Regions from separate parts of the Homo sapiens genome. Here regions 1 and 3 are each linked to region 2. The links come from fine-mapping of genetic effects on gene expression. A gene starts in region 2. Each other region holds a variant in brackets. All regions are shown on one strand. Distances are from middle to middle. Region 1 has its middle 52 kb from the start of KBTBD2. Region 2 holds the start of KBTBD2 (kelch repeat and BTB domain containing 2). Region 3 has its middle 22 kb from the start of KBTBD2.

Region 1 (8,181 bases), 53 kb after region 2:
TCTACTGTAACTCAAGTTGATGACAGGGGCTGACATGACCGAAGAACTTACAATCACTGAAATGTCCAAAAGACAAGAGCAAGAGGCAGAAAAAAGAAGCAAGGGGCATTAATAGTTCTTACACTATAAAATCAGCCCCTACATTGTCAGAATTGTCCTGTATTTTCACGTCATCCTTGTCACAACTCATTGTGTTTTCTTTATATAGATAACTTTGCTCACTTTAGCACAAATATGGAAGTCAAGTACAAGCATATACTCATTTGCATAGCAAATTTTAAAGGGGGCATTGAAATAGTAACCAATTGATAAAGGTATTGTCAGGCCTCTGAGCCCAGGCCAGGCCATCGCATCCCCTGTGACTTGCACATATACATCCATATGGCCTAAAGTAACTGAAGATCCACAAAAGAAGTAAAAACAGCCTTAACTGATGACATTCCACCATTGTGATTTGTTCCTGCCCCACCCTAACTGATCAATGTACTTTGTAATCTCCCCCACCCTTAAGAAGGTTCTTTGTAATTCTCCCCACACTTGAGAATGTACTTTGTGAGATCCACCCCTGCCCACCAGAGAACAACCCCCTTTGATTGTAATTTTCCATTACCTTCCCAAGTCCTATAAAACGGCCCCACCCTTATCTCCCTATGCTGACTCTCTTTTCGGACTCAGCCCACCTGCACCCAGGTGAAATAAACAGCCATGTTGCTCACACAAAGCCTGTTTGGTGGTCTCTTCACATGGACGCGCATGAAATTTGGTGCCGTGACTTGGATCGGGGGACCTCCCTTGGGAGATCAATCCCCCCTCCTTCTGCTCTTTGCTCCATGAGAAAGATCCACCTACGACCTCAGGTCCTCAGACAGACCAGCCCAAGAAACATCTCACCAATTTCAAATCCGGTAAGCGGCCTCTCTTTACTCTCTTCTCCAACTTCCTTCACTATCCGTCAACCTCTTTCTCCTTTCAATCTTGGTGCTACACTTCAATCTCTCCCTTCTCTTAATTTCAATTCCTTTCATTTTCTGGTAGAGACAAAAGAGACACGTTTTATCCGTGGACCCAAAACTCCGGCGCCGGTCACGGACTGGGAAGGAAGTCTTCCCTTGGTGTTTAATCATTGCAGGGACGCCTCTCTGATTATACACCCACGTTTCAAGGGTGTCAGACCACGCAGGGACGCCTGCCTTGGTCCTTCACCCTTAGCGGCAAGTCCCACTTTTCTGGGGAAAGGGCAATTACCCCAACCCCTTCTCTCCTTGTCTCTACCCCTTCTCTGCTTTCCTGGGGAATGGCCAAGTACCCCAACCCCTTCTCTCCTTGTCTCTACCCCTTCTCTGCTTTCCTGGGGCAGGGGCAAGTACCCCTCAACCCCTTCTCCTTCACCCTTAGTGGCAAGTCCCGCTTTTCTAGGGGGAAAGAACCCCCAAACCCCTTCCCTTCATGTCTCTACGTTCTCTTTTCTCTGGGTTTGCTTCCTTCAATATAGGCAACCTTCCACCCTCCATTCCTCCCTCTTCTCCCTTAGCCTGTGTGCTCAAGAACTTAAAACCTCTTCAACTTACACCTCACCTAAAACCTAAACACCTTATTTTCTTCTGCAACACCGCTTGGCCCCAATACAAACTCGACAGTAGTTCCAAATAGCCGGAAAATGGCACTTTGAATTTTTCCATCCTACAAGATCTAAATAATCCTTGTCGTAAAAGGGTCAAATGGTCTGAGGTGCCTGACATCCAGGCATTCTTTTACACATCAGTCCCTTCCTAGTCTCTGTGCCCAGTGCAACTCGTCCCAAATCTTCCTTCTTTCCCTCCCGCCTGTCACCTCAGTCCCAACCCCAAGCATCACCAAGTGTTTCTAATCTTCCTTTTCTACAGACCCATCTGACCTCTCCCCTCCTCGCCAGTCCAAGCTAGGTCCCAATTCTTCCTCAGCCTCCGCTCCTCCACCCTGTAATCTTTTTATCGCCTCCCCTCCTCACACCTGGTCCGGCTTACAGTTTCGTTCTGTGACTAGCCCTCCCCCACCTGCCCAGCAATTTACTCTTAAAAAGGTGGCTGGAGCCAAAGGCATAGTCAAGGTTCATGCTCCTTTTTCTTTATCCCAAATCAGAAGCGTTTAGGCTCTTTTTCATCAAATATAAAAACCCAGCCCAGTTCATGGCTCGTTCAGCAGCAACCCTGAGATGCTTTACAGCCCTAGAAACTAAAAGGTCAAAAGGCCATCTTATTCTCAATATACATTTTATTACCCAATCTGCTCCCGACATTAAATAAAACTCCAAAAATTAAATTCCGGCCCTCAAACCCCACAACAGGATTTAATTAACCTCGCGTTCAAGGTGTACAATAATAGAAAAAAGTTGCAATTCCTTGCCTCCACTGTGAGACAAATCCCAGCCACATCTCCAGCACACAAGAACTTCCAAACGCCTGAACCGCAGCGGCCAGGCGTTCCTCCAGAACCTCCTCCCCCAGGAGCTTGCTACAAGTGCCAGAAATCTGACCACCAGGCCAAGGAATGCCTGCAGCCCAGGATTCCTCCTAAGCCGTGTCCCATCTGTGTGGGACCCCACTGGAAACCGGACTGTTCAACTCACCTGGCAGCCACTCCCGGAGCCCCTGGAACTCTGGCCCAAGGCTCTCTGACTGACTCCTTCTCGGCTTAGCGGTTGAAGACTCATGCTGCCCGATCGCCTCAGAAGCCCTGTAGACCATCACGGACGCCGAGCTTTGGGTAACTCTCACAGTGGAAGATAAGTCCGTCCCCTTCTTAATCAATACGGAGGCTACCCACTCCACATTACCTTCTTTTCAAGGGCCTGTTTCCCTTGCCTCCATAACTGTTGTGGGTATTGACGGCCAAGCTTCAAAACCCCTGAAAACTCCCCCACTCTGGTGCCAACTTGGACAACACTCTTATGCACTCTTTTTTAGTTATCCCCACCTGCCCAGTTCCCTTATTAGGCCGAGATATTTTAACCAAATTATCTGCTTCCCTGACTATTCCTGGACTACAGCTGCATCTCATTGCCACCCTTCTCCCCAGCCCAAAGCCTCCTTTGCATCTTCCTCTCATATCCCCCCACCTTAACCCACAAATATGGGACATCTCTACTCCTTCCCTGGCAACCGATCACATGCCCATTACCATCCCGTTAAAATCGAATCACCCTTACCCTGCTCAACGCCAATATCCCATCCCACAGCATGCTTTAAAAGGATTAAAGCCTGTTATCACTCGCCTGCTACAGTATGGGCTTCTAAAACCTATAAACTCTCCTTACCATTCCCCCATTTTACCTGTCCTAAAACCAGACAAGGCTTACAAGTTAGTTCAGGATCTGCGCCTTATCAACCAAATTGTTTTGCCTATCCACCCCATGGTGCCCAACCCATATATTCTCCTATCCTCAATACCTCCCTCTATTACCCATTATTCTGTTCTGGATCTCAAACATGCTTTCTTTACTATTTCTTTGCACCCTTCATCCCAGCCTCTCTTTGCCTTCACTTAGACTGACCCTGACACCCATTAGGCTCAGCAAATTACCTGGGCTGTACTGCCGCAAGGCTTC[A/T]CAGACAGCCCCCATTACTTCAGTCAAGCCCAAATTTCATCCTCATCTGTTACCTATCTCAGCATAATTCTCATAAAAACGCACATGCTCTCCCTGCTGATCGTGTCCGATTAATCTCCCAAACCTCAATCCCTTACAAAACAACAACTCCTTTCCTTCCTAGGCATGGTTAGCATGGTCAGAATTCTTACACAAGAGCCAGGACCACACCCTGCAGCGTTTCTGTCCAAACAACTTGACCTTACTGTTTTAGCCTAGCCCTCATGTCTGCATGCAGCGGCTGCCGATGCTTTAATACTTCTAGAGGCCCTAAAAATCACAAACTATGCTCAACTCACTCTACATTTCTCATAACTTCCGAAATCTTTTTCTTCCTTATACCTGACGCATATACTTTCTGCTCCCCAGCTCCTTCAGCTGTACTCACTCTTTGTTAAGTCCCACAATTACCATTGTTCCTGGCCCGGACTTCAATCTGGCCTCCCACATTATTCCTGATACCACACCTGACCCCCATGACTGTATCTCTCTGATCCACCTGACATTCACCCCATTTCCCCATATTTCCTTCTTTCCTGTTCCTCACCCTGATCACGCTTGATTTATTGATGGCAGTTCCACCAGGCCTAATCGCCACACACCAGCAAAGGCAGGCTATGCTATAGCACAAGCCACTATCCCGCCTCTTAGAACCTCTCATTTCCTTTCCATCGTGGAAATCTATCCTCAAGGAAATAACTTCTCAGTGTTCCATCTGCTATTCTACTACTCCTCAGGGATTATTCAGGCCCCCTCCCTTCCCTACACATTAAGCTCGCTCAATTCATCCAAAACCGTATCCAGGCCATCACCAATCATTCTATACGACAAATGTTTCTTCTAACATCCCCACAATATCACCCCTTACCACAAGACCTCCCTTCAGCTTAATCTCTCCCACTCTAGGTTCCCACGCCACCCCTAATCCCGCTTGAAGCAGCCCTGAGAAACATCACCCATTCTCTCTCCATACCACCCCCCAAAAATTTTCGCCGCCCCAACACTTCAACACTATTTTGTTTTATTTGTCTTATTAATATAAGAAGGCAGGAATGTCAGGCCTCTGAGCCCAGGCCAGGCCATCGCATCCCCTGTGACTTGCACGTATACATTCAGATGGCCTAAAGTAACTGAAGATCCACAAAAGAAGTAAAAACAGCCTTAACTGATGACATTCCACCATTGTGATTTGTTCCTGCCCCACCCTAACTGATCAATGTACTTTGTAATCTCCCCCACCCTTAAGAAGGTTCTTTGTAATTCTCCCCACACTTGAGAATGTACTTTGTGAGATCCACCCCTGCCCACCAGAGAACAACCCCCTTTGATTGTAATTTTCCATTACCTTCCCAAATCCTATAAAATGGCCCCACCCTTATCTCCCTATGCTGACTCTCTTTTTGGACTCAGCCCACCTGCACCCAGGTGAAATAAACAGCCATGTTGCTCACACAAAGCCTGTTTGGTGGTCTCTTCACACGGACGCGCATGAAAGGTATGAGTCATTTTTATAATTAGAATGACATTCAAATTGACCAAATAAAACATTTTCTATTTGAAAACAGTTACCTATAAAAGTTTTTGGGATATGAACAACACATGACTTAGCAAAACATTAAAACCATTAGAGATGTAGTTCTCCGTAGGCAGCAGGTCATGTAGCAGTCATTCTTTTACAACTTCTAGGACTTTGTAAACACTGTTCTGGAATACAGTGGTGAAGTGAGGTTTGGAATCCTTCACCAAGAGGTTACATAAGGGAGTTTTCCCAGCATTGGCAGGATCTTCTACATCCCAAATTTCAGGCATACTGCAACCAGGCCTAGAAAAATGAATGTACATGTTAAAAATCAGTATGCATTATATAACTGCAGAGAAAGCAGGGCACTTCTTACATTCCTGATCTCATTTCCTTTTTTCCCCTTAAATTACTTTAGTTTTTAAACAATCCTGTCATGTAGCTTTCATGCGCGTCCATGTGAAGAGACCAACAAACAGGCTTTGTGTGAGCAATAAAGCTTTTAATCACCTGGGTGCAGGCGGGCTGAGTCCGAAAAGAGAGTCAGCGAAGGGAGATGGGGTGGGGCCCTTCTGTAGGATTGGGGTAGGTAAAGGAAAAAGGGGGGTTTTTCTCCGGTGGGCAGGAGTGGGGGTCACAAGGTACTCAGTTGGGGAGCTTTTGAGCCAGGATGAGCCAGGAGAAGGAATTTCACAAGACAATGTCATCAGTTAAGGCAGGAACAGGCCATTTTCACTTCTTTTGTGGTGGAATGTCATCAGTTAAGGCAGGAACCCACCATCTGGATGTGTACATGCAGGTCACAGGGGATACGATGGCTTAGCTTGGGCTCAGAGACCTGACATTCCTGTCTTCTTATATTAATAAGAAAAATAAAATGAAATAGTGGTAAAGTGTTGGGACGGCAAAAATTTTTGGGGGTGGTATGGAGAGATAATGGGCGATGTTTCTCAGGGCTTCTTTGAGCGGGATTAGGGGTGGCGTGGGAACCTAGAGTGGGAGAGATTAAGCTGAAGGAAGATTTTGTGGTAAGGGGTGATATTGTGGGGTTGTTAGAAGAAACATTTGTCATTTAGAATTATTGGTGATGACCTGGATACAGTTTTGTATGAATTGAAAAACTAAATGGAATAAGACAAGGAGAAAAACAGGTATTAAAGGACTAAGAATTGGGAGGACCTAGGACATCTAATTAGAGAGTGCCTAAGGAGGTTCAGCATAGCCTTGCCTGCAAAGATTATTTATTTACTATAAGAGTTAAGAGTGGCGGTTTGGGGCTAGCACCAGGAGATATCAGCTGTGATGGCTTGGAGAAACAGTGTAAACTGGCAGTGTAAACAAGAGCAGGGCACGTATGAGTAGCTGAGAACAGTGAATAGGAGTATGACTAGACAGAAGACAGTAGGGATGACAAGTTTTTTGGGGCACAGTCCAAGTTGGTCTGGTGTCTGGAATGATACTGGGGCCTAATAAAAAGGAGCATCTATATGGGAGCTCAAATGGGCTGTACTTTGTAGCATTCTGAGGACAGGCCTGAATTCTGAGAAGGGAAAGTGGTAAAAGTATTGTCTATTCCTTTTTAAGTTGGTGGCTGAGCTTGGTAAGGTGTGTTTTTAAAAGACCTTTAGTATGTTCTACTTTTCCTGAAGACTGAGGACTGTAAGGGATATAAAGGTTTCACTGAATACTAAGAGTCTGAAAAACTGCTTGGCTGATTTGACTAATAAAGGCTGGTCTGTTATCAGACTGTATAGAGGTGGGAAGGCTAAACTGAGGAATTATGTCTGACAGAAGGGAAGAAATGTCTGTGGTGGCCTTCTCAGACCCTGTAGGAAAGGCCTCTACCTATCTAGTGAAAGTGTCTACTTAGACTAAGAGGTATTTTAGTTTTTGTGACTCAGGGCATGTTGAGTAAAGCTAATTTGCCAGTCCTGGGTGGGGGCAAATCCTTAAGCTTGATGTGTAGGGAAGGGAGGGGGCCTGAATAATCCTTGAGGAGTAGTAGAATAGCAGATGGAACACTGAGAAGTTATTTCCTTGAGGACAGTTTTCTACAATGGAAAGGAAATGAGAGGTTTTAAGAGGCGGGCTAGTGGCTTGTGCTACAGCATAGCCTGCCTTTGCTGGTGTGTGGCAATTAGGCCTGGTGGAACTGCCATCAATAAACCAAGTGTGATCAGGGTGAGAAACAGGGAAGAAGGAAATGTGGGGAAATGGGGTGAACGTCAGGTGGATCAGAGAGATGCAGTCATGAGGGTCAGGTGTGGTATCAGGAATAATGTGGGAGGCTGGATTGAAGTCCGGGCCAGGAACAATGGTAATTGTGGGAGACACAGCAAAGAGTGAGTACAGCTGAAGGAGCCAGGGAGCAGAAAGTATATGCGTCAGGTGTGAGGAAGAAAATAGATTTTGGAAATTATGAGAGCTGTAGAGAGTGAGTTGAGCATAGTTTGTGATTTTAAGGGCCTTTAAAAGTATTAGAGCGGCAGCAGCCACTGCATGGAGACATAATGGCCAGCTTAAAACAATAAGGTCAAGTTGTTTGGACAAAAAGGCTACAGGATGCCATCCTGGTCCTTGTGTAAGAATTCTGACTGCACAGCCCTGCACTTCAGCAGTGTGTAATGAAAAGGGTTGGGATGAGTCAGGGAGAGCTAGAGTGGGGGCAGTCTCTAAAGCTGTCTTCAAGGAACGGAAAGGAGTGGGGAAAGGATTTAGGATCTATGGGGTCAGCTAGGTTTCCTTTTGTGAGTTTATAAAATGGTTTTAGAATGGCAAAACCAGGCATCTAAAGTTGAAAGTATCCAACCATGCCTAGGAAGGAAAGGAATTGTTGTTTTGTAGAAAGTGCTGGGTTTTAAGAGATCAGGTGGACATGATCGGCAGGGAGGGCACATGTGTTTTTATGAGAAGCCAAGATAGGTAACTGATGAGGAAGAAATTTGGGCTTGACTGAAGTAATAGGGGCTGTCTGTGAGGCCTTGTGGCAGTATAGCCCAGGTAATTTGCTGAACCTGATGGGTGTCAGGGTCAGTCCAAG
Region 2 (8,181 bases):
CTTTGGACGTAGCAAAAACCACTTGGTCTGTACATATGCCCTGAATTGCAATCCTTGCTTCCTACATAAAATGTTTTAAATTTAGAGATTTGTCTCTATTTTTTTAGGTCAACATACCTAGAAATGGAATTATTGGATAATATGGTAATTCTATGTTTAACATGTGAAAAAGAATATGATATTAAAAACTGTTTTTAATAAATGCTTACTATGTGCTACGCACTTTGTTACACTGTCTTGAATCCTCATTCCTTCTTTTTTTTTTTTTTTTTTGAGATGGAGTCTCCCTCTGTTGCCCAGGCTGGAGTGCAGTAGCACGATCTCTGCTCACTACAACCTCCACCTCCCAGATTCAAGTGATTCTCCTGCCTCAGCCTCCCAAGTAGGTGGGCTTACAGGCACCTGCCACCACGCCCACCTAATTTTTTTTGTATTTTTAGTAGAGATGGCATTTCACCATGTTGGCCAGGCTGGTCTCGAACTCCTGACCTCAAGTGATCTGCTGACCTCTGCCTCCCAAAGTGCTGGGGTTACAGGCATGAGCTACCTGCACCCGGTCCTCATTCATTCAGCATAATATGACCAGGTTCAGATAGGTTAAATAACTTGCCAGAATCATACAGCTACTGAATGGCAGATTGAGGATAAAACTCAGTTTGGTGCTTATACACTTCCATTTCCTATGTGGGTCTCATGGTTTGATTGTCTTTGTGGGAAACATGGTTGGTGGTCTCATCTACTTCTTCCTTGCTGAGAGAACGAAGATGTTGTCCAGATTGAAGGAAAAAAAAAAAGGAATGTGCTCAGAGAAAGGGGAACTCTTTCCTCTCTCTCTCCCAACTAATGACTGGAGACCATAACAACAATCTCATTATCCTGGCCAAGAAGACATCAGGGGTACTCTGTTCGGGATTCTGAGACATATTTTTCCTACCTGATTAGAAGAGAGAAGGGAGAAGAAAAATCACCCCCTTTTCCTTTCTGCTCATACTACTTAAACTATATTGCTGAGATAATATGGCAGTTCCTAAGATTTGAAGTGATGCTGGGAAGCAATTTGGTAGGAGGACAGAAGTCAGTAAAGCAGAGTGGTTAAGATCATAGACTCTGGGTGGGGCATAGAGGCTCACATCTGTAATTCCAGCATTATGGGAGGCTGAGGCCAGAGGGTTGCTTGAGGCCAGGGGTTCGAGACCAGCATGGGCAATGTAGCAAGATCCTATCTCTACAAAAAATTTTTAAAAATTACCTGGGTGTGGTGGCACATGCCTGTAGTCCCAGCCAATTGGGGGGCGGAGGTGGGAGGATCACTTGAGCCTGGGAGTTCGAGGCTGCAGTGAGCTGCGATCACACCACTGCACTCCAGCCTGGGCGACAGAGTGAGACCCTGTCTCAGAAAAAGAAAATGCAGACTGGGCAACATGGCGAGACCCCTCTACACAAAAAATACAAAAATTAGCTAGGCGTGGTGGTCATTCTACTGCCTCAGCCTCCCGAGTAGCTGGGATTACAAGTGCCGACCACCACGGCCAGCTAATTTTTGTATTTTTAGTAGAGATGGGGTTTCACCATGTTGGCCAGGCTGGTCTCAAACTCCTGACATCAGGTGATCCCCCCGCCTCGGCCTCCCAAAGTGCTGGGATTACAGGCGTGAACCACCTGTGCCCGGCTGCATGTTTATTTTTCTAGGAATCATTACTATCTTCTTTCTGTTCTAGAATCATAACAATGTTTAAAGTACAGTTTTAGGATGATACTTTTTGTGGCCATCAGTTGAAAGGAAAGATGACTTATTAATAATTAAAAGGAAAGATGCCTTGTTAATGGAAAAGGGTTGCATGAAATAATGTTTTGGATACAGATCACAAGAGAGATGCTGTACATTCCAAAAGAGTTTGTGTAACTGCTAGAAGATACTGATGTATGACTCCCTAAAATGGACACTGGAACTTGCTGTGATCACTCAGAGCCTTCTAAGCTCAGAGACAAGATCTCTAAGGGAATTAAGATGGTGTTTTAGGCGGAACATCAAATTAACGATGCCAAGAACCTACAGTTATTCTAAGATGGCAGCTGCAAAAGGAAAGCTGAACGGGAGTCACCCTCCCCTGACTGCACCAGTCCCTTCTTCCTCATTGTTCCAGTCCCCTGTGAGACTTTGTTTAAGGGGATGGGAACCTTGAGATAAGGGATGGCAAACAACTACAACTATTTGAGTATAAATGTTCAACCTGTTCTTTTCCCAGTTAAGATAACACACCAAAGCGATTGGCCTTTTTTGAAACCTAGGAACATCAATCCATCCTAACAGCTCTCAGGGTTTTAAGTGTTAAAGAAGGATGCTTTAAATATTAACTAACTAGCCGACTGCTATTTGTCTGACTTGTCTGACCCAATATCCATTCCCAGTGTTTTTCTCTTTTGTAATCTTTATAGGTGGCCAAATTACAATTCTAGACAATGAGATGTTTGTGGAAGTCTGCTGAGTTTGGGAGATGTAGTATCCTGAGAAAGCTTTCACTTTCCTGAAGAAAAAAAAGACCATGGATGGTGGAAGCCACCCCCTTTCCCCTCTTCTTGCCTTGAACAAAGGTGCGAAGGCTAAAACTGCTGCAGCCATATTGCAACCATGAAGTCAATGTCGAGAGAATCACAGAAATGATGGCCCTGCTGTTCTTGAGCTATTGAACCAACAAAGGTAACTGCCTACCTGTAGATTTGAGGTCTTGTTTAAGCTATTATAATGGAATCTTTTCGAAAAAAATGTGGGCCCAAATGCATTCCTAACTGTACAGCCATTAAAAGGACAACTTTAGTCCTCTCTTTCATCCTCACAATTCATTACTCCTCTTATAGTCACTGATAACACCATCTAATCACCCTAACTAAAAAACTCAGTTATCCTTGATTTCTTATTTCCCCTCATCCTCTAGGTAATCAAGTCTTATTTATCATAGCTGGCTAGTTTTCAAATGTATCTCTGCTTCTCCATTCTCACTGACACTGTTAGTTTGGACTTTCTCTCCAACTCATGTCTGGACTGCATTAACAGCGTCCTAACTAGTATCCCTGCTTCCAGTCTGCTATCTATCATGCTTTAGAATTTTTTCTCTAAAATCTTATCAAGATATTCTCCTGCTTAAAAATCTTAAGTGGCTTTTTGTTGCCCACAGGATGAATCACGAACTCCTTGCCGCAGGTATCATTTGTTGTTGTTGTCTGCATGTTTAGACCGCATCTCTCATACCCAATCTGGCACAAAGTAGGTGCTCAAGTGTGTGTTAAATGACTTTAATCTTTTGTATAGCTTGTTTGATATCATACCACTTAACTACTTAATTAGACTAAGTACAGTGGTAGCATGCTGGAAACTCAATGAAGATTTGTTGAATGTAGTTTCCAGATTCTACAGTAAAACAATCCTTTATCAGTAGTTCCTGATAACACGCATCTTGGTGTGCATTCAGTTGATCTAGCCTAGTTTACAGGAAGAGGCTCCCTTCAGTAATGTACTGTATGGCCTTTCAGATTATAATTAGTCATCTATATTCTCTAGATTGGGCTTGTGCCAAGACTGTAAGTTAGGAAGGTAGGTGGAGTCTGTGTGGGCATTTCTGACAATTTTTTGATCCACGAATAGCTCCTAGCAAATTTACAGCCTGCCTGCCAGCAAGCTGTGCCAAGTTAACTAAAACAGTACGGGCCACAGCCATTAGCTGCTGCTACAAACGCTTCGCTTTGCGAAGCAACGCTGAAGGCGCTCTTTTGGAACTCGGGGGGTTGGGGGCGTGCAGCCGCCGCATTGCAGCACACAACGGAAGGCTTCAGACGCTGGAGCTGCCGTCCGCACCCAGATGTCTCTCTCTCCCTTTTCCCCTAACCTCCCCCAACTGCGGGCCCTTTTGGGTGCTGCTCTGACTTCTTCCTTGGCCTTGGGAAAAGCCGAAGCGGCTCTGGAGAGAGGAGGGCATGGTTTGGAGAAGAGGTGCTGCGGCAACAAAGCGACCCGCCCAACGCCTCCTCAACTTTCTCCTGCCCCCGGTCTGGTATTGTTTAGTCCTACTCATTCCCACTTTCCGAGCCAGCCTGCAAAAATCTGTATTTCAGGGGAAATTCCAAGGGATAAAACACCTCCTTCAGCATAACAATTGGTGTTTTGCTCTCTAGATTTCCTAGCAATGAACTTGTCGGGCCTCTCCATCCGCCCGTCTAGGCCCAAGGCCTCGGCCGCCGCGGCTACTCGGAGTGCCCCTCTGCCGCGCACGCGCCCCTCAAGGGCTCTCCCATGACCTTTCCCGGGAACCCCCTTCAATTACGCTTCCCGTCACCTCGCGCCGCCCCCGCCCTTCCTGCTCTTTCCGTTTCCTCTTTCGCGCCTGCGCGGCCCCAATTGTTTTGGCTTTCCGGTGGCATCCGGCAGAGGAAAAGGGCGGGGGCAGCTAGAGTAAGGGAGGGGCGGGGGACGGTCGCGAGGACCCGGGAAACTGCAAAACTGCCGCTGGTGCCGACAGGCGCGCGCGCGCGCGAGGCGGGAGGGCGGCGTGGCGAGGGCGGGCGCGGCAGGCTGGCCAGCGGTCCATTGCGCGCGCGTTCCCGGGCCGCGGGCGGGGGCGAGAGCGCGCGGCGGGGGCGGGGGCGGGGGCGGCGGGGGCGGCGGGCCCGGCGTCTCGCGGCCCCGGACTGACAAGGCGGCGCGGGCGGGCGGGCGGCGCGGCTCCCGGGGGAGGAGTCTGGCGGTGGTCGGGCCCTGAGGAGCGTGCGGCGGCGCCCGCAGAGGACGCTGCTTTCCGCGCTGGACGGACCAAGCGAGGGAGGGTGCGAGGGGAAACCGGAAGGAAGAGGCGGCGGCGCCAGCCTTCCTCGGCCGGAGGCGGAGGCGAGACCCCAGGCGAGGCCGCGGCGGGAGGGCCACGCCCCCGCCGCCGCGCCGGAGGGGCCCAGTGTGGACGGGGCCACCGGCTGGAGCGGATCCCACACCTCCGGACCGAGGGACGCGGGTGAGCAGGCGACAGTAGCGCCGGGCAGGCTGGGAGCCCGCGGCGACCTGTGGAGGGGCCGGGGAGGAGGGCTGTGGCGGGAGGGGGCTCGGCCCTTTGTGGCTCGGCGGGTGGGAGGCGGCGGCCGCGGCATCTTTCAAACCCGAGACGCTTCCGCCGCGGGCGGGGGAGGGGCGCGGGCGGCCGGCGCCGCCCTCCGCACCCCGCGGCGGCCCCAGGGCGGCGGAGCTCCGGGCAGGTCCGCGGGGAAGGGGCGGCCCGGTACGCCGCTAGCTGGGCGTTTCCGGCCCCGGCACCGGGCGCCTCGGCGCCCGCGGGGCTCCCGGGCGGCGCCTTGGCCTCGGCTCGCGCCCGCCCTTACCGAAGTAAAGCTGTTTCCCTTAAAGACTCGCGACGTGTTCGCGACATGGTGGGCCGAAGGAGGACACCCCCTTCCTTCTGTATTCCCCCCGCGTACATCTGAACTAACCAAGAGAGGTCTAGACGAACAGAGCTCCTGTTATGGTCTATATCGACTTAAAAAAGAAAGCAGAAACTGCCCTTTGAAACGGAAAATTGTGTACGTGTTTACTTTGTGAAATCTTTAACTTCCTTGAATTCGACCACCTCCTTCTCCCTACGGATTGAACAACCGGGGAATAGAAAAATCGCTTAGTTTGGTGTGGGGCGGTTATTTTGAGTTAACATCTTTTTTTCCCTTGGGCTTAGCTATCTAAGAACTCTACCTGCCTCAAAAGGTAGAGGAGCGTCCATCCCACGGGCTACCACGGTGACCCCTTCCAGTGAAAATAGGAAAAGAATTCAAAATACAAAATGAACTTTAAAAGGGTGTGTGTGTGAACTATCTTCTGTGTCAATTAGCCTTATGAAGACGTAGGCAACAGGACTGGTCACGTGTTGTTTATACTTGAATCTGTACGTCGGGCTCACAGCATTTAGGCATTGAGAAACGAAACCCTATCAACGCTGTGCACTGACCAAAATGATATTTTCTTTTATCGAGGCAACTAATTAACAGGGATCTTCCCCCTCTTCCCTCTGAGTTGTACATTTTTGCCGAATTTGAGTAGTATGGGTCTTAGATCTCTTGTAATTGTGAATGACTTAGTTTGGTTAACCTTTGATAAGGACTTTTTTCCCCGACTTTTTTTTCTGATCTAAAGTAAATTGAAAAGCCAGTCGGTTGTTTTCTAATCTCGATGATGTGGAATTTTGCTATTCTTTCCATCTGGCTGATAACTAATGTTAAGCTTACTTCTTCACTTTGATCTTCTGTTGGCTTAGTGCTTATTGAAGCCCTTTTAGGTTGGGGCCTGGAATCCTCAAGAGGTTGTTTTCTGTCAGTAACTCGGGAGTGCTGTGGCCTTTCTGTTGAGCATGCTCTGTAGTCCACACGTTTCCACATAGTGGTGTTTTCTTTGCACAGTTTTGTAGGAAGACTTTATGAGTGCTGTAACTCTACTCCCCTTTTTGCTCTCATAAGAAGCATTATAAAATGTTAACTTATGTTATTCACAGGGCATGTAAGGAGATGGGAAGGAATAGAGGTATCAGTACATATGTCCATGCTCCTCCATAGATTTTCTTCTGGTTGGTAGAAATGTTGAGCTTTTCATTCCTAAACATTGAACATTGAATGTGCAAGGTGAATTCCTAGAAACTTGAATGCAGTCTTAAAAGCCAAATGATAACATTGGTTTTTCCAAAAATGTTACACATTTAGAAAAGAGTCCCCCTTCCCCTCTTCTCTTTGCCCACATTCCTAAGACAAGTAAGGCCAGGAAAAAGGATTGATCCTGGTGTCATAAAATATGAGTGAAAATTTCAAAGTCCTTTGTTAGCTTAATCTTTTCAGTTTTGTAGAGTTTGAATAGACCAACTGATACTTAAATAACTCAGTATTAGAAATGACAGGTTGATCTCAAGTAATTTTTTTTTGAGACAGAGTCTCTTGTCACTCAGGCTGGTGTGCAGTGTCACGATCTCGGCTCACTGCAACCTCCGCCTTCAGGGTTCAAGTGATTCTCCTGCTTCAGCCTCCTGAGTAGCTGGGATTACAGGCGCGCCCCACCAGGCCTGGCTAATTTTTGTATTTTTAGTAGAGATGAGGGTTCACCATGTTGGTCAGGCTGGTCTCGAGCTCCTGACCTCGTGATCCCCTCACCTCGGCCTTCCAAAGTGCTGGGATTACAGGCGTGAGCTACCGCAGACGGCCGATCTCAAGTAATTTTTTTTTTTTTTTTAAGAGACGGAGTCTCGCTGTGTCGCCCAGGCTGGAGTGCGGTGGCGCGATCTTGGCTCACTGCAAGCTCCGCCTCCCGGGTTCACGCCATTCTCCTGCCTCAGCTTCCTGAGTAGCCCACGCTGGGCTAATTTTTGTATTTTTAGTAGAGATGGGGTTTCACCGTGTTAGCCAGGATGGTCTCGATCTCCTGACCTGGTGATCTGCCCGCCTCGGCCTCCCAAAGTGCTGGGATTTACTGGTGTGAGCCATTGCGCCTGGCCACTTTTCCCCAGCTTTCTTAAGTCACTGCGCAGAGGTGAGAGGAAAAAGGAAAAGTGATACCCAAAATAAAAGGACATAGTATACTCATATGATTATTGTATCGCAGGTGGCATTGCCTTTATGTTCTTGTTTAATTTTTTAAAACTGAGATAACTTGTTAATCATAATATAGTACAGCTTGTACTTGTGACCTGAATTTACTTAGGGTGCTGAGCGTAATTAACCTGATGGAGCCATGTCATCTATCAGTATGGTTGGAAAGAGAGAACAGACCTAAGCTCTGAATGTGACTAGAGCAGAGGAAGCTATGCTGAAATTTTTTTTTTTTTTTTTTTGGGACGGAGTCTCGCTGTGTCGCCCAGGCTGGAGTGCAGTGATGCGATCTCGGCTCACTGCAAGTATGCTGAAATTTTTAAAACTTGATAGATTCTTCAAAAGGCCAGGTGTTTGTTTTTTTGGTTTTTTTGTTTTTTTTTGGTTTGTTTTTTAATTGATGCCTGTCACAACTCCAGAAAATTCTGTTTGTGTAGCAGTTGACAATCTAAAAAACAAATGGTCTTTTCCAGACATTCTCAACTGTCGTGGTTGTTTTGATAACTTGAAAGCAAACTGTTTCTAGCACCCATCTCTTGTCCTTCCTAAGGAGAAAACTATCTCATTGAAATAAAGAAAGGCTTG
Region 3 (8,181 bases), 22 kb before region 2:
TACGAGACAATAAACAACATGAAAAGAATGTAAGGTGAGGTTGTCCTGGTGATAGTATCTATTTAAAGTTTTAACTTATATAAAGTTGGAAAAAAACCTTCTAGCACTAGGAGAGTGATATAGTAAACATGGCACTTCAATTGTGAAATATTTATTGGGTAGGAGTCATGGCTGACAAGACCAGTGTTGGGGAATCAGCAGGCCAGCCTCCTCCTCCTTGGGTTAGCTTAAAGCTGTAGGCTTGGTCCAGTTCTCTGACCACTGCAGTTGATATTAGCCACCCATGTTGTGCTATTTACTTGCATGGTACAATTGGTACCATGCAAGGTAATTCAGTTTATCTCCTCTAACGTCTTAAGGATCTCAGCTTTTGTTAAAGATTATACCTAGACAAGATTAGAGAGTGAATAATCAGGAGAGTTTGTTTTTTCAAACTGGTTACATTAAATTATAATTGTTGAGGGTGTAGATTATCTATTAGGAAATTGAGCAGTTGGGGAATGGTTTAGTAAAGTATGCGTCTGTTAGAATTTATAATTGTAAGTACTGTGGGAACCTACAGAAATGACTAGGACAAGGAAAAGAATACAAAAATGGTTTGTACACTGGTTACAGTCACATAAACATAGGCATTCAGGTGAAGAAGAATGGAGAAAACAGGTAAAAATAAAAATAAGTACTGTCTTTGTGATGTGGTTATTCATGATCCTTCCATATTGCTTTTGAATGACATATTTATCTAAGCAACTGTTGTAAGTTAAAGCTAAAACTGACTGTTCTTTGATCAATTTTGAATGTTTAGGATACAGCAGTTAAAACAGTTACTGGAGGATTCTACCTCAGGTGAAGATAGGAGCAGCTCCAGTTCCTCTGAAGGTAAAGAGAAACACAAGAAAAAGAAGAAGAAAGAAAAGCATAAGAAAAGGAAGAAAGAAAAGAAAAAGAAGAAAAAACGGAAGCACAAATCTTCCAAGTCAAATGAGGGTTCTGACTCAGAGTGACAAGGATGTGACTTGTTCAACATTCTCTTCTCAAACACTGACCAAGGAACAGAGGAAGATGCAGTCAGAGAAAGTAGCAGGATAGAGACGCCGAGAGAGGAGTATATGTGGGTCACAGCAGTGAGCTCCCACCCGCCTTGCAGTGAAGATGTGACCCCAGGAGAGGGAGTGTCTCCTTCCAGGTGCTAGCTCTGGACAGCAGCTGATTTTAGGCAGGAAAGTTTCTTCATCGTTGTCCTCCCTGCTGGTCACATGAGTTTACGATTCCTTAGAAGTGTCTCCCACAGGGTGGCAGGACTGGGAGAATCTCTGAGGCGTGTCTTCCAGGCCCTCCCACAGCTTGTGCCCTCCACAGTGTAGACTTGAACACTTGGCCTCATGTGATCCTTCCACCTTGGCCTCCCAAAGCATTGGGATTACAGGCGAGAGCCACTGGTTGGCTAAAATATTTATATTTACCTGACATGATTTGTTGATTTGGGGGCTAGGGAGTTCTTAAAACAACAATAAAAAATCTTCTGTGGCTGCATTCTACTTCACTTGCTTTCTACTGCCAGAGTCCCATGATTTTCACAGAGTGACTGACTCAGAAAAGGTTTAGGAATATAGGGGGATTTGTGTACTAGGTCAGGTATCCACATCCCAAAATCCATCCCTCCCTTTCTTCCTCTTCCTGTTGCCTGACCACAGCCCACCTGTGCTCTTGTAGCTGAAACTAGGCCACAGTAGAGGCATCTCAGGAGGCCAGGGTGTGTCTGCAGCTGGAGGAGAGGAAGTCTATCCTTTGCTGCGCCAAAGTGAAGCGGATCTTGCTCATAGGCAAGTGTGTCCCTCTGTGGCTAGCACTGGTCTCTTGCTGCTTTAGGCACTCAGTCAGGGTCCCAGAAACTCACTCCCATTTTCTGCCACTTTTCCTGGGGTTTGGATTCCCTCCTTTTTAAGGAACAGCCAAGCCAGGCCCAGACTGACCCTTCTTCAAGTCTCATCAGTCAATGCTCCTGTTCTTGGCCTCGGAATACCACCTCAGGAAAACAATCGGTTGAGATTGGAATGGCCAGGACTTAACTATTTCTGAAAACTGTAAGGCCAGTGGATTCAGCCTTGCCTTACACTTATCCTTGTCATGCAGAACACAGGCCATCTGTCCTCTGCCATATGCTCAGCATTTCTTACCCAGGTACAGCCGGTCCTCTTCTTCCAGGAATTGGCTACTGTCCCTCTGCAATCCCATTCATGATAAAAGCATTCTTATACAACACAAAAGATGCTGCATCAATGATTCTCAAACCTCCAAGACATCCAAATCAACTAGCATGCTTAAGATGCAGATTCCTGTGCTCGACTCACCAACTTCCAGAATTTTCCATTCCCTAGGTCTGAGGTGAACCTGGGAATCTGCCTTGCTAACAAATGATGCTGACACTGTTGATTTGGGGACCCCACTTGGAGAACCTGGGCTCTAGATCTCTACCCTCTTACTGAAGCCTTCTTCCACTTCCTGCTTTAACTGGAATCCAGCCGTCCACCCCTGTAGCCCTTGCAAAGTGAATCGTCCCTTTTCCCTCACTCTGTTTTTTTCTCCTCTGTTTCTAGCCTAGATTCCAAGGAACATCACTTTGGCCTGTCATCTCCCCTGATCTGTGATCCTTTTGTCCAGCTTTCCCCAAAGAAGCATCAATCAAAATCTTCCGCTTTGCTCCTATAGACAGACTACAGGGGAAAAATCCCAGAGCCCCTACAAATCCATCTCCAAACTCAAATGAGAACTGAGCTCAAAAAGCCCACTAGCAAACCAGAAGTGTGCTAGCCACCCACTTAAACTTTCTTTTTCAGACATCTCTTTCAGATATACATTTTCCATTACTATCCAGGGAGACAAAATAAGCCCTTAAACCTCCCTTCACTCAGACATCGTATGATGAATGTCAGACATCCTACTGATATGGTTTGGATGTTTGTCCGCTCCAAATCTCATGATGAAATGTAATCCCCAGTGTTGGAGATGAGGCCTGGTGGGAGGTGTCTGGATGATGGGGGCAGATCCCTCATGAATGGGTTAGTGCCATCCCCTTGGTGATGAGTCAGTTCACACCAGATCTGGTTGTTTAAGTGTGAGTGGCACCTCTCCCTCCCTCTTTTGCTCTGGCTGTTGCTGTCACCATGTGATATGCTGGCTCCTCATTGCCTTCCACCGTGACTGTAAACTTCTTGAGGCCTCACCGGAAAGATATTCCAGCACCACACTTCTCGTACTGTCTGCAGAACCTTGAGCCAGGCAGGTGTCTTTTCTTTATAAATTACCCAGGCTAAAATGGCATCATGATTTCTCCCACTAATCTTCAGACTGTTAATAGGATGCACTTTACTCCTGTGACTAGATTGTGTTACCAGTACAAGGAAAGGGAGACCACCTGGGTGTTCCTAACCAAATCATGAGAACCCTCTGGAACTCGATTTGTCCCTGGCTGTTAACCAAAGAGGAGGTCAGAGAGTCCAAGCCTGTGAAAGATTCCACGCATCATTACTGGTTTTAGAGTTGAAGGGGCCACATGGTGAGGGATGCAGCAAACTCTCATCAAAGGTTCCTGACTAACAGCCAGCAAGGAAATGGAGCTCTCAGTCCTACAGCTGAAAAGATCCGCATTCTGCCACCCTCAATGGTTCTGGATGCATATTCTTACCCAGAGCCTCCAGATGGAAGCCCACCTCTGCTGACATCTTCGGTTGGGGTTTGTGAGATGCAAGGTCGAGAACCCAGTTGAGCCTGCTCAGGCTTCTGACCTACACCACTGTGAGGTAATCAGTGGTGGTGGTTTTGAGCTTTTACATTTGTGAGAAAGTGTTAATGCAGCAACAAACTGATCCAGAGGTTTAATGAGCTTTCCCTCCTCCTCTCAGGCCAGTCCATCACCTATGCTCTGGATCCCACCAACAGCCAGCAGTAGGGGGCAGTGGCTGGAGCACTGGCCCTGCATCCAGACTGCCTGGCTTTGAATCCCAGCTTTGCTAGCTGTGGAGTTGCTCCACCTCTCTGTGCCTCC[G/A]TGTCCTTGACTAATCATGTCTACCAGACTTCTAGTGAGAATAAGGGGACTTGATATCCATAAAGCATTTAGAGCAGGGTGTGGCACATCTCAACTCTAAATGAATGTTACCTGCTCCTGCTGCTACTGCTGTCACCATCATCTAATCCTCAGGGAACTTCCTCCTCCTTTATCCCATGTCACTCACGTCTTCAAACTCTTCCTTTCTATTGTGATCTTGCCCCAGTATTTAAAAATTGTTTTGGCTCATGCCTGTAATCTCAACACTGGGAGGTCGAGGTAGGTGGATCACTTGAGGTCAAGAGTTTGAGACCAGCCTGGCCAACATGGTGAAACCCCATGTCTATCAAAAATACAAAAATTAGCTGGGCATGGTGATACACACCTGTAATCCCAGCTACTCGGGAGGCTGAGGCAGGAGAATCACTTGAACCTGGGAGGCGGAGGTTGCAGTGAGCAGAAATTATGCCACTGCACTCCAGCCTGGGCAACAGAGTGAGACCCTGCTCCCCAAACCCCACCAAAAAAAAAAAACAAAAAACAATTGTTTTAAAACTGTAAAATACATGCCCGTAAAGAGTTCACAATTCTGAGCCATTGGAGAACAAAAAGTGAAAAGGGAGTCTACTTATGATGCTTTGATACAGTGCTCCAGATCCTGATCAAAATGCATTAGCAAACACACACATGTAAATGCACGGTTTTTGGTTAGCTTTACATAACTGATAGACACTAGTAATACTGTTCTGTGACTTCATTTCACTCACCGTATGTTGGCAATTTTACTGCTCACTACAAGCTTCAAATGGCTACAAAATTCCTTGGTTTGAATGTGCCATGATTTGTTTAACCATTAATCTATTTATCAGAATGCAATTCTTTCCCATTTCTCATTCCTACAAAGAAGACTGAAAATAAAAATTTTTGAGTAAATATCTTTGGGGTTTTTTTTTTTTTTTTTTTTTTTTTGAGACAGAGTCTCGCTGTGTCACTCAGGCTGGAGGGCAGTGGCACGATCTCGGCTCACTGCAAGCTCCACCTCCCGGGTTCACGCCATTCTCCTGCCTCAGCCTCCCAAGTAGCTGGGACTATAGGCGCCCGCCACCACACCTGGCTAATTTTTTGTATTTCTAGTAGAGACGGAGTTTCACTCTGTTAGCCAGGATGGTCTCGATCTCCTGACCTCGTGATCCGCCCACCTTGGCCTCCCAAAGTGCTGGGATTACAGGCGTGAGCCACCGCACCTTGCCTTGAGTAAATATCTTAATGTATGTATGCAAGTATTTCAATAGAATAGTTACCTAATAATGGAATTACATATTTTAAGTTTGACAGATTCTACCAAATTACCCTCCAAAAGAGTCTACCAATTTATCCATTCTCTTACAGTATATAAAGTGGCCCATTTCCCTATCCAGCAGCATTTAAACAAGCTCAAGTCTCCCTTTAAAAGAAAAAAAAAAATCCGGAGGCCACGCACAGTGGCTCATGCCTGTAATCCCAGCACTTTTGTAGGCCAAGGCAGGAGGACCATTTGAGCCCAGAAGTTTGAGGTTACAGTGGGCTATGAGGGCACTGCTGCACTCCAGCCTGGGCAACAGAGTGAGACCCTGTCTCTGAAAAAAATAAAATCCTCCCTTGATCCCATGTCTCTATCTAGCACTTTTCTCTCCTTTACAGCCGTTTTGTCAACCTCGGACTCATTTATTTTAGGAACTGAATAATTCTAAGTGGTAGGGTTCGATTCTGTGCATTGTAGGGTATTGTGTGGCATCCCTGGCTTGTAACCACTTGATGCTACTAGTACATCCTCCAGTGGTAGCAACTAAAATTGTATTTGAATATGCACCTGCAAAAAAAAATTGGTCCCTTATCTTACACTATACACAAAAATCTGCTCAAAATGGTTTAAGGACTTAAACTAAAATCTGAAACTGTAAAACTCGTAGGAGAAAACAGGGAATAGACTACATTGGCCTTGGCAGTGGCTTCTTGGATATGACATTGAAGGCACAGGTAACAAAAGCACAAATAGACAAGTGGGATTGCATCAAGCTAAAAAGCTTCTGCACAGCAAAGGAAACATCAACAAAACAAAAAGGCAATACATGGAAAGGGAGAAAATGTTTGCAAACCATAAATCTAATCATGGGTTAATATCTACAAAATATAATAAACTCCTACAACTCAATAGCAAACAACCAGATGACCTGTTTATTATAACAATAGGCAAAGGGCCAGGAGTTAGAGGCTGCAGTGAGAGACATGATTGCACCACTGCACTCCAGCTGAGGCAACAGACCAAGACCCTGTCTCAAAAAATAAAATTTAAAAAATAGGCAAAGAGCCGGATGCGGTGCCTCACACCTGTAATCCCAGCACTTTGGGAGGCCGAGGTGGGTGGATCACCTGAGGTTAGGACTTTGAGATCAGCCTGATCATTATAGTGAAACCCTATCTCTACTAAGAGTACAAAAATTAGCCGGGTATGGTGGTGTGCGCCTTGTAGTCCCAGATGCTTAGGAGGCTGAGGCGGAAGAATTGCTTGAACCCAGGAGGCAGAGGTTGCAGTGAGCTGAGATTGTGCCACTGCACTCCAGCCCGGGTGACAGAGTGAGACTCTGTCTCAAAAAAAAAAAAAAAAAGCAAAAAACTGAATAGACATTGATTCCAAAGAAGAATGACCAGCAGGTATATGCAGAGGTGCTCAACAGCAGTAATCATTAGGCAAATGCAAATCAAAATAATAAGGAAATATCACCTCATACCTGTTAGAATGACTGTTTAAAAAAAAAACCCAGGCCGGGCACGGTGGCTCACGCCTGTAATCCTGGCACTTTGGGAGGCTGAGGCAGGCGGATCACGAGGTCAGAAGATCCAGACCATCCTGGCTGACACCATGAAACCCTGTCTCTACTAAAAATACATAAAATTAGCCAGGCGTGGTGGCGGGCACCTGTAGTCCCAGCTACTCAGGAGGCTGAGGCAGGAGAATGGTGTGAACCCAGGAGGCGGAGCTTGCAGTGAGCCGAGATGGCACCACTGCATTCCAGCCTGGGCGACAGAGCGAGACTAGGTCTCAAAAAAAAAGAAAAAAGAAGAAAACCCAAAAGATAACAAATGTTGGTTAGGACGTGAGGAAAGAGCCCTTAGACACTGTTGATGGGAAAGTAAAGTGGTGTGAGCACTGTAGAAAACAGTATAGAAGTTTCTCAACAAATTAAAACTAGAATTACCATATGATCCAGCAATCCCACTTCTGGGTATATATCAGAAGGAATTGAAATCAATCTTGAAGAGATTTGTACTCAGGTTCAGTGCAGCTTTATTCACAGTAGCACTGACATGCAAGCAAACTACACATCCATGATGAGTGAATGGAGAAAGAAAATGTGGTCTATCCATGTATAATGGAATATCCTTTACCTTAAAATAGAAGCAAATCTAGCCATTTATGACAACATGGATGAACCCAAAGGACATTATACAAAGTGAGATAAGCCAGACACGAAAGGCCAAATACCCCATGATACCACTTACAAGATGAATCTAAAATAGTCAACTATTTGAGGCCACAAGTTTTGACACCAGGCTGGGCAGTATAGCAAGAGCCCATCTCTACAATAAATAAAAAAATTGGCCAGCTCTGTTGGCACATTCCTGTAGTCCCTGTTACTGGCAAGAAAGCCCTAGGTGGGAATGGCTGAGGCCTTTGTTGTGATTGTCTCAGAGCCCAACTTCTCCCTCTGCCCAATCACATTCCCTTTGCCCTCTGAGATGTTATTCCCAAGAACACCAATGTGAATTTTCCCACAATCTCCGTCTCAGAGTCTTGTCCCCACACATGCAACCTGCCACAGGAGTCCAACAGCTTCCAAACATAACCAGACTTTTCATCTAGCCTCTAGGACAAAGGTCCAACTATGGGCAGAACTACAAAGCAGAAGTATCCACTGATTGGCCCCATTCTATTTTTGTGCTTCTTATCCACCTACTGTCAATTTTTTCCAACCTTCTAGAGTCCTGATGTCTTCCTACTGTAAAGACAGCCCCAGTCCATTGAAGTAACTACTAAGTACTACTAACAGAGTCAGTTTTTTCCACACTACTTGTACTGCTATTGTACAAGTGTTAAAAAG

The links. PIP is the estimated chance that this variant, and not a neighbour inherited with it, causes the effect.
Region 1: its variant is the best candidate, but not a certain one, in a credible set for the expression of KBTBD2 in whole blood (INTERVAL, PIP 0.70).
Region 3: its variant is the best candidate, but not a certain one, in a credible set for the expression of KBTBD2 in whole blood (TOPMed, PIP 0.55).

Annotation. Positions count from the first base shown.
Region 1 is chr7:32,835,677-32,843,857 of GRCh38, reverse strand. It overlaps the pseudogene DPY19L1P2. Among named protein-coding and RNA genes, the nearest start is that of KBTBD2, 52 kb to the left of the region's middle. The variant A/T (reference allele first, on the strand shown) is at 3,584.
Region 2 is chr7:32,888,352-32,896,532 of GRCh38, reverse strand. KBTBD2 (kelch repeat and BTB domain containing 2) reads left to right here and starts at 4,773. Exons shown (of 4, transcript NM_015483.3): 1 at 4,773-4,997. RefSeq lists enhancers at 4,224-4,283, 3,989-4,692, 7,248-7,773 and a silencer at 4,464-5,413.
Region 3 is chr7:32,910,164-32,918,344 of GRCh38, reverse strand. It overlaps the pseudogene RP9P. Among named protein-coding and RNA genes, the nearest start is that of KBTBD2, 22 kb to the right of the region's middle. The variant G/A (reference allele first, on the strand shown) is at 4,043.